3 linked regions of the Homo sapiens genome follow. The protein of the gene in region 1 purifies or fractionates together with the protein of each later gene. This does not show direct contact. Each region holds a gene or a part of one and is shown in the gene's direction. Other genes may lie near its edges.

The links.
Region 2: the proteins of ZNF776 (region 1) and SIRT5 purify together in Homo sapiens (affinity purification with mass spectrometry; one large-scale study listed by BioGRID and IntAct). This does not show direct contact.
Region 3: the proteins of ZNF776 (region 1) and ZYG11A purify together in Homo sapiens (affinity purification with mass spectrometry; one large-scale study listed by BioGRID and IntAct). This does not show direct contact.

What each region holds. Positions count from the first base shown.
Region 1 is NC_000019.10:57,745,222-57,749,641, forward strand, and holds the start of ZNF776 (zinc finger protein 776), read left to right. Parts: upstream 1-1,593; 5' UTR 1,594-1,837; coding exon 1,838-1,870; intron 1,871-4,420. UniProt on the Homo sapiens protein: May be involved in transcriptional regulation.
Region 2 is NC_000006.12:13,591,552-13,595,277, forward strand, and holds part of SIRT5 (NAD-dependent protein deacylase sirtuin-5, mitochondrial), read left to right. Parts: intron 1-117; coding exon 118-343; intron 344-3,726. UniProt on the Homo sapiens protein: NAD-dependent lysine demalonylase, desuccinylase and deglutarylase that specifically removes malonyl, succinyl and glutaryl groups on target proteins.
Region 3 is NC_000001.11:52,863,260-52,866,759, forward strand, and holds part of ZYG11A (protein zyg-11 homolog A), read left to right. Parts: intron 1-721; coding exon 722-898; intron 899-3,243; coding exon 3,244-3,308; intron 3,309-3,500. UniProt on the Homo sapiens protein: Probably acts as a target recruitment subunit in an E3 ubiquitin ligase complex ZYGA-CUL2-elongin BC.

The sequences.
Region 1 (4,420 bases):
TAAGTTGTACTACCAATAAACTGAGTTCTTTCCCTACTTTGTATTGGTCACAAAAAAAAGAACACCCAATTTGGGAAAAAAAAAAAAAAAGGCAAGCAAGTTTTATTTCTGAGCAGAAATGGAGAATGAGTAAGCTCTTGCTCTAAATGCCTCTTCTCCCTGAACATAGAAGACATAGGTTTTTTAAGAACTGAGCGGCTGGGTACAGTGGCTCATGCCTTTAATCCCAGCACTTTGGGAGGCCGAGACAGGTGGATCACCTGAGGTTGAGAGTTCGAGACCAGCCTGACCAACATGGAGAAACCCCGTCTCTACTAAAAATACAAAATTAGCCAGGTATGGTGGCTCATGCCTGTAATCCCATCCATAACATTAATTTATTAGGCAAAACACTCCTTGCCATGGAAACAGAAATAAAGAATAGTCACAAAAAAAAAAAAAGAAAAGAAATAAATAAAGTCTGTTTTATCTAATACAAAAAAAAAAAAATAGCCACTTCCCAGCAATAACATGAACTCCTGGATTTAAGACACAACCAATATCAACAGGTGGAGAGCATCTTCTGCATACGTGCCCCACCTTTGAAAACTGCAGCCATTTATCACTACCAAAATAGCATTTCTTTCATTGGTCTTCCTGTAAGATTGATAAATCTTAGATAAATTAATCCAGAATTAATTGAATATAAGTTGGAATCTCAAGCGAGGGATACTAAGTGGATAAAAGTGTTGCTCAATGTACTGGACACTATGATTGATTTTATAGGCAGGAGAGTTGTCTTCTGTGGGAATCACAGACAGAGATTCAGCATGTATTCCTGCTTTAGGGAACACAACATTTCTCCTCTATCTTCCTTGTCTTGTCCTATCTGGATTAGTTCTCTCTTGTCCCTGACAGACTGAGAAACTGACTCTAATGCCTCAGAGTGCATTCATGTGAATTTATAACACAATAATGTTTATCAGCCTCTGCTGCCAGTACCGGGATTTTGCGACTGAAAGACTGTTCAAAACGTTATGATAATTTGGATTTTTAGTCTTTGGGGGCATCCTAAATAATAAGTTTAGCATCGGAGAGCTCGAGTTCCCCAAAATCTAAAATAATATTTTTTCAAATACTTGAGTGATCAGTTACAGACACTAATCTCCAAAAATCTCAATACGGGTTCTAAGGCTAGGTGAGACTATCCTCTACCCTAGAAGGACATGCACTTTAAGGACAGGCCGCTGAGATGGAGCTGGGCCTTTCCTGCAAGTAAGTGAACGTGATGGTAGGGTATACCTGACAGCATAGTTTGACAGGGGATATAGACTTTCAAGGAGAAAATAGACATGAAATAGATACATGCAGAAGTATAGTCAAATTGAGGGAAGATGACACTTAGGCCAGAGTAGTGTTTATTCACCACTCTGTGCAATCAAGCGCCTCTGAGAAGGCCTTCTTTACCGCCTTGGAACTGTCTTGGAACCTGAGGAAACTACATAACCCAGAAATCTCTGCGTCGAATGACAGCGCGTCAGAGCCAATGAGGGCTCAAAATAAAGGCGTTTCCGCGGAAACAGTATAAAGGTGGGACTTCCGGCGTCCTCTACTAGTGGCCATTTTGATTGGTGTTGGGTGTATTTTCCAGTGAGAGACCGCGGAGTGTTGGGTCGTGTAGAAGTGACTGAACCCAGAAGGTGGAGACGAGACGTTGTCCCGACTGCACAGAGGCTGCTCTGCAGCTCCTTAAAGGCGCTAGGCGTGACCCGCACCAAGGCCGGGATCGGGACCACCGTGCCCGGGTACCTGCACTGCTCGCCCCCTCCTTTCGACCCCGCTTTCCCCACCCAGTCGGATGGCGGCGGCCGCGCTGAGGCCCCCGGCTCAGGTAATTGTGGCGTCTTCCGTGCCCTCAGGTCACCTCATCTTTACCTAAGTCCAAAAGCAGAGAGGAAGCGGCGCCTGCTCAAGGTTTTACACCCTGAACCCGGCGTCGGGACACTGAGGCGCTCTCTATGGGCCCCCGTTTTTGACACCCGCGGGATGCGCTCAGGAGAGCTACAGGCACAGGGAGCGGTGCAGGCAAAGGCCTGGAGATGAACTGAGCCGAGAGGATCGTAACCTAGGGTCCACAGGCACCTGTCGGGAGCAAAGTGTGAGGCAGAGCTCCTCCTGGAAGAGCAGGCTGAGGACCGTGTATTCACCCTGAGAACGCTGGAAGCCATGGACAGCTTCCAACAAAGGAAGGAAAAGATCAATGTCCAGGCTTTAAAGGTTTCCCAAAGTCCAGTCGAAAAAGAACACAGGGGATGACTTTTGGGCCCTGGGAGGTTGAATTCTTGTTCAACCTCTACAGATCAGATAGGTGCTAAGAGATGACATTTTGTACTGAGGCGCTCAGTTCAGACAACCAACTCGCGTTTACCTAGTTACAGGGCCAAGAAAGAGTTCAGGGAGGCCTGAGCTTATCAAATCTCATCAGGGATACATTCTTGTAGCTTGTGCCTCTCCTCTCAGGAACTCCTGGCTGCAGAAGCACTTGCAGAACCTCCGCAGGGAAGCGGAGGGTGTTATTCCCTCACTGGCCCTAACTCCTATCCACATGCTCTTTAGATTGGGATGTCCTGGGATTCTTAGGTACCTTTTTTTTTTTTTTTTTAAGTTTTTTGATATGGGAACCCTGGAGGAACCTTAAACCCAGGATCCAAAGTCTGTGACACAGGATATATGGAGGTATTCCCATTTCTGTCAACCAGTATAAACATACTTGGAAGGTTAACCCAGGAGTTAGTACCAGGATGTGAAATGCTTAGAGGTGAAACTGACCAGAGGGAGGAGGTGATGTTGCCACAGTTTCATCTGGCTGTAGTCTCCTCTGGCTGTACAGTGGAGAACAGACTGTGGGGTTGAGAGAGGAGGAAATAAGATGAGAGTTGAGGCTTTTGCCGTAATCCAAGTGAGGGTTAACAGACTAAGATTCATGGCTAAGGAGATGTGGCTGGATTCAAAGTTGATATTTTGTTACAGCATCTAGGTTTCCTAATACACAAAGTAAGGGCATGAAGAGAGCAATCAGGATCCCGAGGTTTTTGGTCTTAGTAGCTGTAGCTATGGAAGCTGCATCAGCTGAGATGAGCATGTTGGTAATAAACATAATTAGAATATTATGCAAATATCAGGATGACTGTTATGGCCATATGAAGAGTCAGAGACGAATAAGTGTAGGCATCAAATGGCTATGGACATGCAGGTTGGGGTATCTGGAAAGGGATTGACACTGGAGACATCTAATATATGGTAGCTAATGTGTATGCTATGGTGAGTGAGCCATGGGTCACATTAAGGAGAACACACTTCAGATTCTGGTGGTAAATCTTTTAGGGGACCAGAAAGCAGTGGTTGAATGATGAGGACTGCATCTGTTGCTTGGGTCCCTGGGTAATGTTACTGGGCTTCCTAAACACTGGAGAGGTAGGTAAGTGACCATGATGGTAGGGTATACCTGTCAGCATAATTTGACAGGGGACATAGACTTTCAAGGAGAGAATAGACATGAAATAGATATATGCAGAAGTGTAGTCAAATTGAGGGAAGATGACACTTAGGCCAGAGTGGTACTTATTCACCACTCTGTGCAATCAAGATTTGAGATGACTTTGGTAGTGTGTGGGGGGTTTCATTACACGTGCTGAATATGCTCAGGGAGAAATATGGTCATCTGTGACAGTAGGTCTTGGGCCTTAAATGGATTAAAAACAGGACTTTTTTTTTTTTTGAGACGGTGTCTCACTCTGTCGCCCAGGCTGGTGTACTGGTGTATAGTGGCGCAATCTTGGCTCATTACAACCTCCACCTCCCAGGTTCAAGTGATTCTCCTGCCTCAGCCTCCCGGTAGCTGAGAATACAGTTGCGTGCCACCACGCCCCACTAATTTTTTTTTGTATTTTTAGTAGAGATGTGATTTCACCATATTGGCCAGGCTGGTCTCGAACTCCTGACCTCATGATCCACCTGCCTCAGCCTCCCAAAGTGCTAGGATTACAGGTGTGAACCACCATGCCCATCCAGGACTGCTCTTTAAATGGCAATGGTATTAGGTGAATGGAAGTTGGTCCGTGTTGCTGAAGGGTAAGCCATTGTAGCACAGAAGTGGAATAAGACCATGGATATCTGAAGTTACATGTGGTTTTGCATGGATGTGGAGTAATGCAAGGAGGCATTCATAGAATTATTAGGGACTACCACTGCTAATGGGAACCATGGTCATTTTGTGTTATTATTGGATCCTGTTTGAATATGTGAAGCATATTGGATGCTGTCAGCCATATTGTGGTATAAAGCCAAAAATGGAGGCCCAATATGATGTGTCACCTTGACATCTAGTGATATTGGTATGACCTCAAATGACCTGAGAACCAATTCCCTTCCCACTAGGCTC
Region 2 (3,726 bases), on another chromosome or scaffold:
GCCTGCACCTTCCCGACGCTGCCTGTCTCTGCCTTAGGGAGGAAGGGCCTGTGCCCCAGGGTTCAGCATCCTGGCTGTCTCTGCCTCCCTCACTCCTGCCTCCTCTCCCACTCCCAGGACCTGGCGACTCCCCTGGCCTTTGCCCACAACCCGTCCCGGGTGTGGGAGTTCTACCACTACCGGCGGGAGGTCATGGGGAGCAAGGAGCCCAACGCCGGGCACCGCGCCATAGCCGAGTGTGAGACCCGGCTGGGCAAGCAGGGCCGGCGAGTCGTGGTCATCACCCAGAACATCGATGAGCTGCACCGCAAGGCTGGCACCAAGAACCTTCTGGAGATCCATGGTGAGAGACCCCCAGCCTCCCATTCAGGGAACCAGCTTTAAAACACCTGTCCTGCTGTTTCAGCATCACCTCTGGTGCCTTCCCTCCCTCCCTGCTGGACATCCGTCCTGTCCTATAGGATGCTGTGGCATTTCCTTTGGGGACATGTTAGTGTCCCGTGGCACCTGGGCAGCTGCCTTTGGCCATGGGAGGAGCCCCTGACCCACTAACATTATTCACTTAGCAGTTCCTCCATCCTCGCTGCTCAGGGTGGTCTAAGAGCCAGCAACATTTGGCGTCCCCCAAGAACTTGTTAAAAATGCAGAATCTCAGGCCCCATAGGCCCCACTGAATCAGAATCTGCATTTTCCCATGAGCCCAGGTGGCTGGCGTGCTTTTTATACTGGAGGAACGCTGGGGTGCACAGCTGCGTGACCCTTTCCTCTGTGGAGGGGCACGGTACTGTGAGACAATGGCCTCAATGAGCTGAGGAATAAGAGGCCTGGCCCATTGGACAGCTGGGGCTTGAGCAGGAGCAGACTGCAGCATCTTGGGGTCTCCTGTCACTCCCCCTTCATCCTGGTGGGCACTCCCCACTGAGGCTGTGCTTCTGCCCCGCCCTGGAGCCTCAGAGAGCTGCCAGCTCAGTGCTGGACACTGCACCAAGCCCACCAAGCCTGTGATGTCGGTGGACCCCACTGAGGCTGTGCTTCTGCCCTGCCCTGGAGCCTCAGGGAGCTGCCAGCTCAGTGCTGGACACTGCACCAAACCCACCAAGCCTATGATGTCGGTGGAGTTTGTCTTGGGTCCCTCTGGGCTCCTTCCTCTGTCCTGGGTAACCCCTCACCCCTTCACTCTTGTCTTCTGGCTCCTCCCTTCTTTGCTGTCACCACAAATCTAAAACATCCACTTGTCCACAGTCATAATGGGCAAACTAGGGTTTCCCCCAAGGCCATTTGCATTTAAAGAGTCTGCATTCAAATCCAAGGAATGCATTTCTTATTTTTTAAGCATTTATTTCTCTTAATTTAATTTAATTTAATTTTTTTTTTTTTTTTAGCAATGGGGGTTTCACTCTTGCCCAGGCTGGGGTGCAGTAGCCTGATCATAGCTCATTGCAGCCTTGAACTCCTGGCCTCAAGGGATCCTCCCACCTCAGCCTCCAGAGTAGCTGGGACTACAGGCACATGCCACCATGCCCAGCTACTTTTTAAAATTTTTGTGGAGAGTGTCTCACCATGTTGTCCAGGCTGGTCTCAAACTCTTGGCCTCAAGCAGTCCTCCCTCCTCAGCCTCCTAAAGTTTTGGGATTACAGGCTTGAGCCACTGTGCCAGCCAAAAATGCATTTCTAAGTGTAGCATTTCCAGAAGCAGTGCACCAGTCGGGGGTGTTTGTTTTTGCGTGTGTGTGGTGAAGCTGCCTGCTTTTACTTAGATCACCCTGATAAGGAAAGCGAGGCACTACTCATTTCGACTGTGTCTGTCTTTTGTTCATCAGGAACAGCCAGCCACCTATTAACCGAGCATCTTTTTGGTACCTACATCTGCTGGGTCTGAGCCACTTTCCATGTGCCTCTGCTGATTTCCCTGCAGTGTCAGAATGTGGGCTATGTCATCAGCATAAAACCGAGATGACAATGCCTATCTTATAGAATTGTTGTCGGGATTAAATAAGATCATATATGTGTGTTAGTCAGGACTTTTTAAAATTTCAAACGATGAGAACTCTCTTCTAACTTAGGTTAAAAAAAATCAATGGCATCTTCAGTCTGATGAAGGGTTTTTTTTAAGATGCATCATGTTTTTAATGTGGCATTTAGAATATAATCTGCCTAAACCATGATATACTATTTTATTATCCCTTAGAATTATTCTATACTTAGAGAAAGAGCTTGTTAAAACTTAGACACGTTCTTTAGAAATTATATCTTTCCAGGCATACATAAAGTATGAGTATGATAAACTGGTCCAAATATTTCTCATTATCTAGCTCTTCTAAATGATTCTGAGTGACTCAGAGCACGGATGTCTGTGTTTTCCATGCAGTTTCATGCTCTGTGTCTCGGGAGATGGATGATGCAGCGTTTCCTGAGAGAATGCCCCTCTGTTATAGCTGGGATTCTCATCCAAGCTCCTGACACACCTTCCGCAAGTTCGCTATTGGGCCTGACATGTTCTTACCAAAAGGCATCAGTGGAAAGGCTGTAGACAACAGCCAAAACTTGCTTTCCTTCCTGAAGTGGCCCTTGAAGGGTTTGTTGGCGGAAGGATCCAGGGGCTGAATCTGCCCGGTCAGGCCACGGAGAATAACAACAAAGTCACCCCATTTTTCAGTGTTCTCCTTCAACAAGTCTGTGCAAGCATGATGATGATGTTACAGTCTCATCTGGCCAGTAGCAATTGTAGGACACATCTGAATTTCAGAGATGTGAAAATGGGGAAAAATGTCTATGCTAAAACTGACAAAGTAGGTTTATTGGCTCACAAAACTGAGGAGCCTAGTGGTGCAGCTTATGTCATCTTTCCTCCCGGCCCCTGTCCCCCTCCTTCTTTCAGCTTTGCTCACTCTTTGAGGTGGCCTCCCTTCTCTCTCTGCAATTGATCTGTCTCCACGCGCCAAGGGAGAGTGCCTCCGACGGCTCCAGCTCAGCCACCTGCTCAGAAAATAAACCTCTGGGTAGGCTTGCTTGGTCCACACGCCCACCCTTCTGACCAAACACGACTGCAGAGGGATGGACACCACATGGGGGCCGTGCGCAGCATGTGGCTGAGCTTGTATTTGGGATGTGACCCACAGCCCTATTGGCTCAGCATGCGAGAGAGCAGGGATGGTGCTCCCCAAGGAAGGACTGGTGGGCAGGACGGAGCAGCGCATGTCCACTAGGGTTGAAAGTGCTCTGCACGGCACCAGTTGCCTGGTACCCATTTCATAAACTGTGGCCACCATGATTGCTTCAGCTCAATAAGTGGTGGTTAGTATTAACAATTACTTTTTTCACTTATTAGTTGATTACTTATTTATTGAGGTGCTTTTGTATAAAAGATTCAAGCTTTCTGAAATCGAAGTTAAAATTTTGTAAACATATCCCACGCCATTGAACCTTTGTCAGTCATGTCAATAAATCACGCCCTTAGATTTAGGTTGAGCTCCCTCTACCCTATTGGCAACTTCTGCCCACTTGAACACCACTCCAAGGTCATCTGATGGCACATTAGTCATGGAGTTATTTATTTTTCCTCCAGATTATAAAGTCCTTGAGGGCATATGCTCTTGACTGGCTTAAGAGTACTGCATGCCTCTGTTTCCCATGAAAGCTAAAGCTAGGGTAGGCCCATTTGCTAAAATGAAGTATGGCTCAGTGTGGCGGTGCACACCTATAGTCCCAGCTGCTCAGGAGGCAAAG
Region 3 (3,500 bases), on another chromosome or scaffold:
TTTACATTTGTGTTCTAGGTCTTCCACAGTGTAGCTTCAAGTTACCTAATGTTTTGTTTTACCATTTTTCAAATTCTTCTCCTCTGTTGGTGGATTTATCCCATCCTTTTTTTCCACTTTCTGTTTTTCTTTATCACTTTCTTTCCCCTAGGAATACCCTGTCCATTCTGCCCCTACATTTATCTCCTCCTGTGTAAATCCTGAGACTCTGCCTAAATGTGCTCTCTCAATGAGTTCTTCTGATTCTCTCCCAGAAATGGCCACTCTTTCCATAACTACCTCAGATGTCACTTCATTGATGCGTCTTTTATGGTGCTTTTCTTCAATTTTATTTTTTGGCATTTCTCACAGTGTTATTACTGTCACAAGGCTTTATGCTAACGAGTAGCTCTCACTCATGTTTGTGTCCCCTGCAGTACCTGTCACAGTAGCTTGTATGGAGTGAGGCTCAATAAATGATTCTGAAGTTAATTTCACAGATAAAGAAATAGAGGTCTAGAGAAAGGAAGTGACTTGGCCAAAGTCACACAGATAGTTAGTGACTCCATTTGGATTAGAAGGCTTTGCTGTAATACTTTGATGTTCTAAAGAATAAATGCTTAGGATAGGGAAAATCTGTTCCTGTCCCAATAAACGAAGATTTGTGCCAATCAAAACATGCACAAGACAGCATAGAGAATGTTACTGGCATCATATGCACTAAAAACAAGTTCATCTTCAGCTTGTGGCTATAGGAATGAGGAATCACCCATTGGATTTGCGAGTGCAGTTCACAGCCAGTGCTTGCGCTCTCAACCTAACACGCCAGGGCCTGGCCAAGGGGATGCCTGTTCGCCTGTTGTCAGAGGTCACCTGTCTACTTTTCAAGGCTCTGAAAAATTTCCCCCATTACCAGCAGGTAATTTCAATTGAATATTTGTTTGTGCTTTTTTTGTTGTTGTTAATAGTCTCAGCTCTGTTGCCCAGGCCAGAGTGCCGTGGCACAATTTGTTTTTGTTTTTTTAAAGACAGAGTCTCTCTCTGTCGCCCAGGCTGGAGTGCGGTGGCACGATCTCAGCTCACTGTAACCTCTGCCTCCCGGGTTCAAGCAATTCTCCTGCTTCAGCCTCCTGAGTAGCTGGGATTACAGGCGTGCACCACGACGCCCAGCTAATTTTTGTATTTTTAGTAGAGACGGGGTTTCACCATGTTGGTCAGGCTGGTCTCGAACTCCTGGCCTCATGAGCCATGGCATACGGCAGACAATTTGTGTTTTCTAACTTTAGGATAAATATGTGAAAAATAGATATTATTTAGTTCTGGTTTTTCATCCTATTAGAGAAAGAGAATAGATAAAAGAGTGTGTTTGTTATAGAAAAAATAGGAAATATAGATAAGCAGTGAGGCTAAAATTTTCTTTTTTTTGAGAGATTTTCCTTCTTGTTGCCCAGGGTGGAGTGCAGTGGTATGATCTCGGCTCACCGCAACCTCCGCCTCCTGGGTTCGTGCCATTCTCCTACCTCAGCCTCCCGAGTATCTTAGACTACAGGCGCTCGCCACCATGCCTGGCTAATTTTTTTTTTTTTTGTATTTTTAGTAGAGATGGGTTTCACCGTGTTAGCCAGGATGGTCTCGATCTCCTGACCTCATGATCTGCCCACCTTGGTGTCCCAAAATTCTGGGATTACAGACGTGAGCCCCCGCGCCTGGCCTACACTCATTTTTATTTTTATTATTTTTTTTGAGACGGAGTCATTCTGTTGCCGAGGCTAGAGTGCAGTAGCACGATCTTGGCTCACTGCAACCTCTGCCTCCTGCCTCAGCCTCCTGAGTAGCTGGGATTACAGGCGCATGCCACCATGCCTGGTTGATTTTGTATTTTTAGTATAGATGTGGTTTCACCATGTTGGCCAGGGTGGTCTCGAACTCCTGAACTCAGGTGATCCACTGCCTTGGCCTCCCAAAGTGCTGGGATTACAGGAGGGAGCCACCATGCCTGGCTCCCTCCCCCACAACACACATTTTTAAAATGAAAAGGTAGATGATAGACTGGGAAACATGTTCATTATATATATATGAGAATCAACTTCATTCAGAGTATATAAAGAACTCAACTTGTTAATACAGTACAAATCAGTTATAAAAATGATCAAAAGATTTGAACACTTTGGTAGTTTCTTTAGGAATTAAATATACACTTCATAAACTACCTAGTCATTCCACTCCTAGGTATTTACTGAAGATAAATGAAAGCATGTATCCATATAAAGATATTTACACAAATATTCATGGTACCTTTATTTATTGCCAAAAACTTGAAACATCCCAAATGTCCAACAACAGGCGAATAGAAGCATTGTAATAAATCTATTTAGGGAAACACTACTTGGCACACAGAGATGAAGTACTGATATCTGCAGTGTAGATGAAACTCAAAAATGTTATATGTTGAGCAAAACAGGCCAAACTCAAAAGAGCAGAAGTACATGATTCCATTTGCATAACACCTTAAAAAAACTAATCTATAATGACTGTAATTTTCCGAGGATAGGGTTTACAGGGTTGAGACTAACTTGAAGAGGGGACAATGGAACTCTCTGGGGGTGATAGAAGTATTATATCTTGATTGTAGGAGTGGTTACACAGGGGTATAAATTTGTGAAATCTAATACAAATGTGTACTTTGTAAAGGGAGTTTTTTTTTTTTTTTTTTTTTTGAGATGGAGTCTCGCTCTGTCGCCCAGGCTGGAGTGCAGTGGCACAATCTTGGCTCACTGCAAGCTCCGCCTCCCGGGTTCATGCCATTCTCCTGCCTCAGCCTCCCGAGTAGCTGGGACTACAGGCACCCACCACCACGCCCGGCTAATTTTTTGTATTTTTAGTAGAGACGGGGTTTCACTGTGCTAGCCAGGTTGGTCTCGATCTCCTGACCTCGTGATCCGCCTGCCTCTGCCTCCCAAAGTGCTGGGATTACAGGCATGAGCCACCGCACCCGGCCAAGGGAGTTGATTTTTTAAAAATACAGTTAGGAAGGTGGTTTTCCTCATTTATTTCTACCTTATTTTTAAAGTTGGAAAATCCTACTCAAGTCTTCATTCCTGCATGGCAGTCATCAGTTACAGCATTAAATGAAAATTTAATGCTGGTACACAAATGAGCTCTCAATAAGAAAAGCTCACTAGTAATACTTCCAAATACATGGAATCTTTGTTTAGAATGGAATGTTACATTTGTTCAAAATTATTTTTCTTTATTCTCTAAAAGTTACAGAAGAATTGTCTTCTCTCCTTAACCAATTCCAGGATTCTTGTGGATGTTCCATTTGACAGGCAAGTATAAGACTTGGTCATTTGACTGGGGTGTTGGCCTTTGGTTATTAAATGCAGAGGCCTGATTAAGGCTGGGATAAGGTGTTTGGAGAGAAGGTTCTGTTGAGCATCTTCCACAGAGAAGTGATTAGAAGTACCCTACTAGAAAATGTTGTCTCCTAAAGTGATTCTAGTATAGGATAGTGGGTAAGA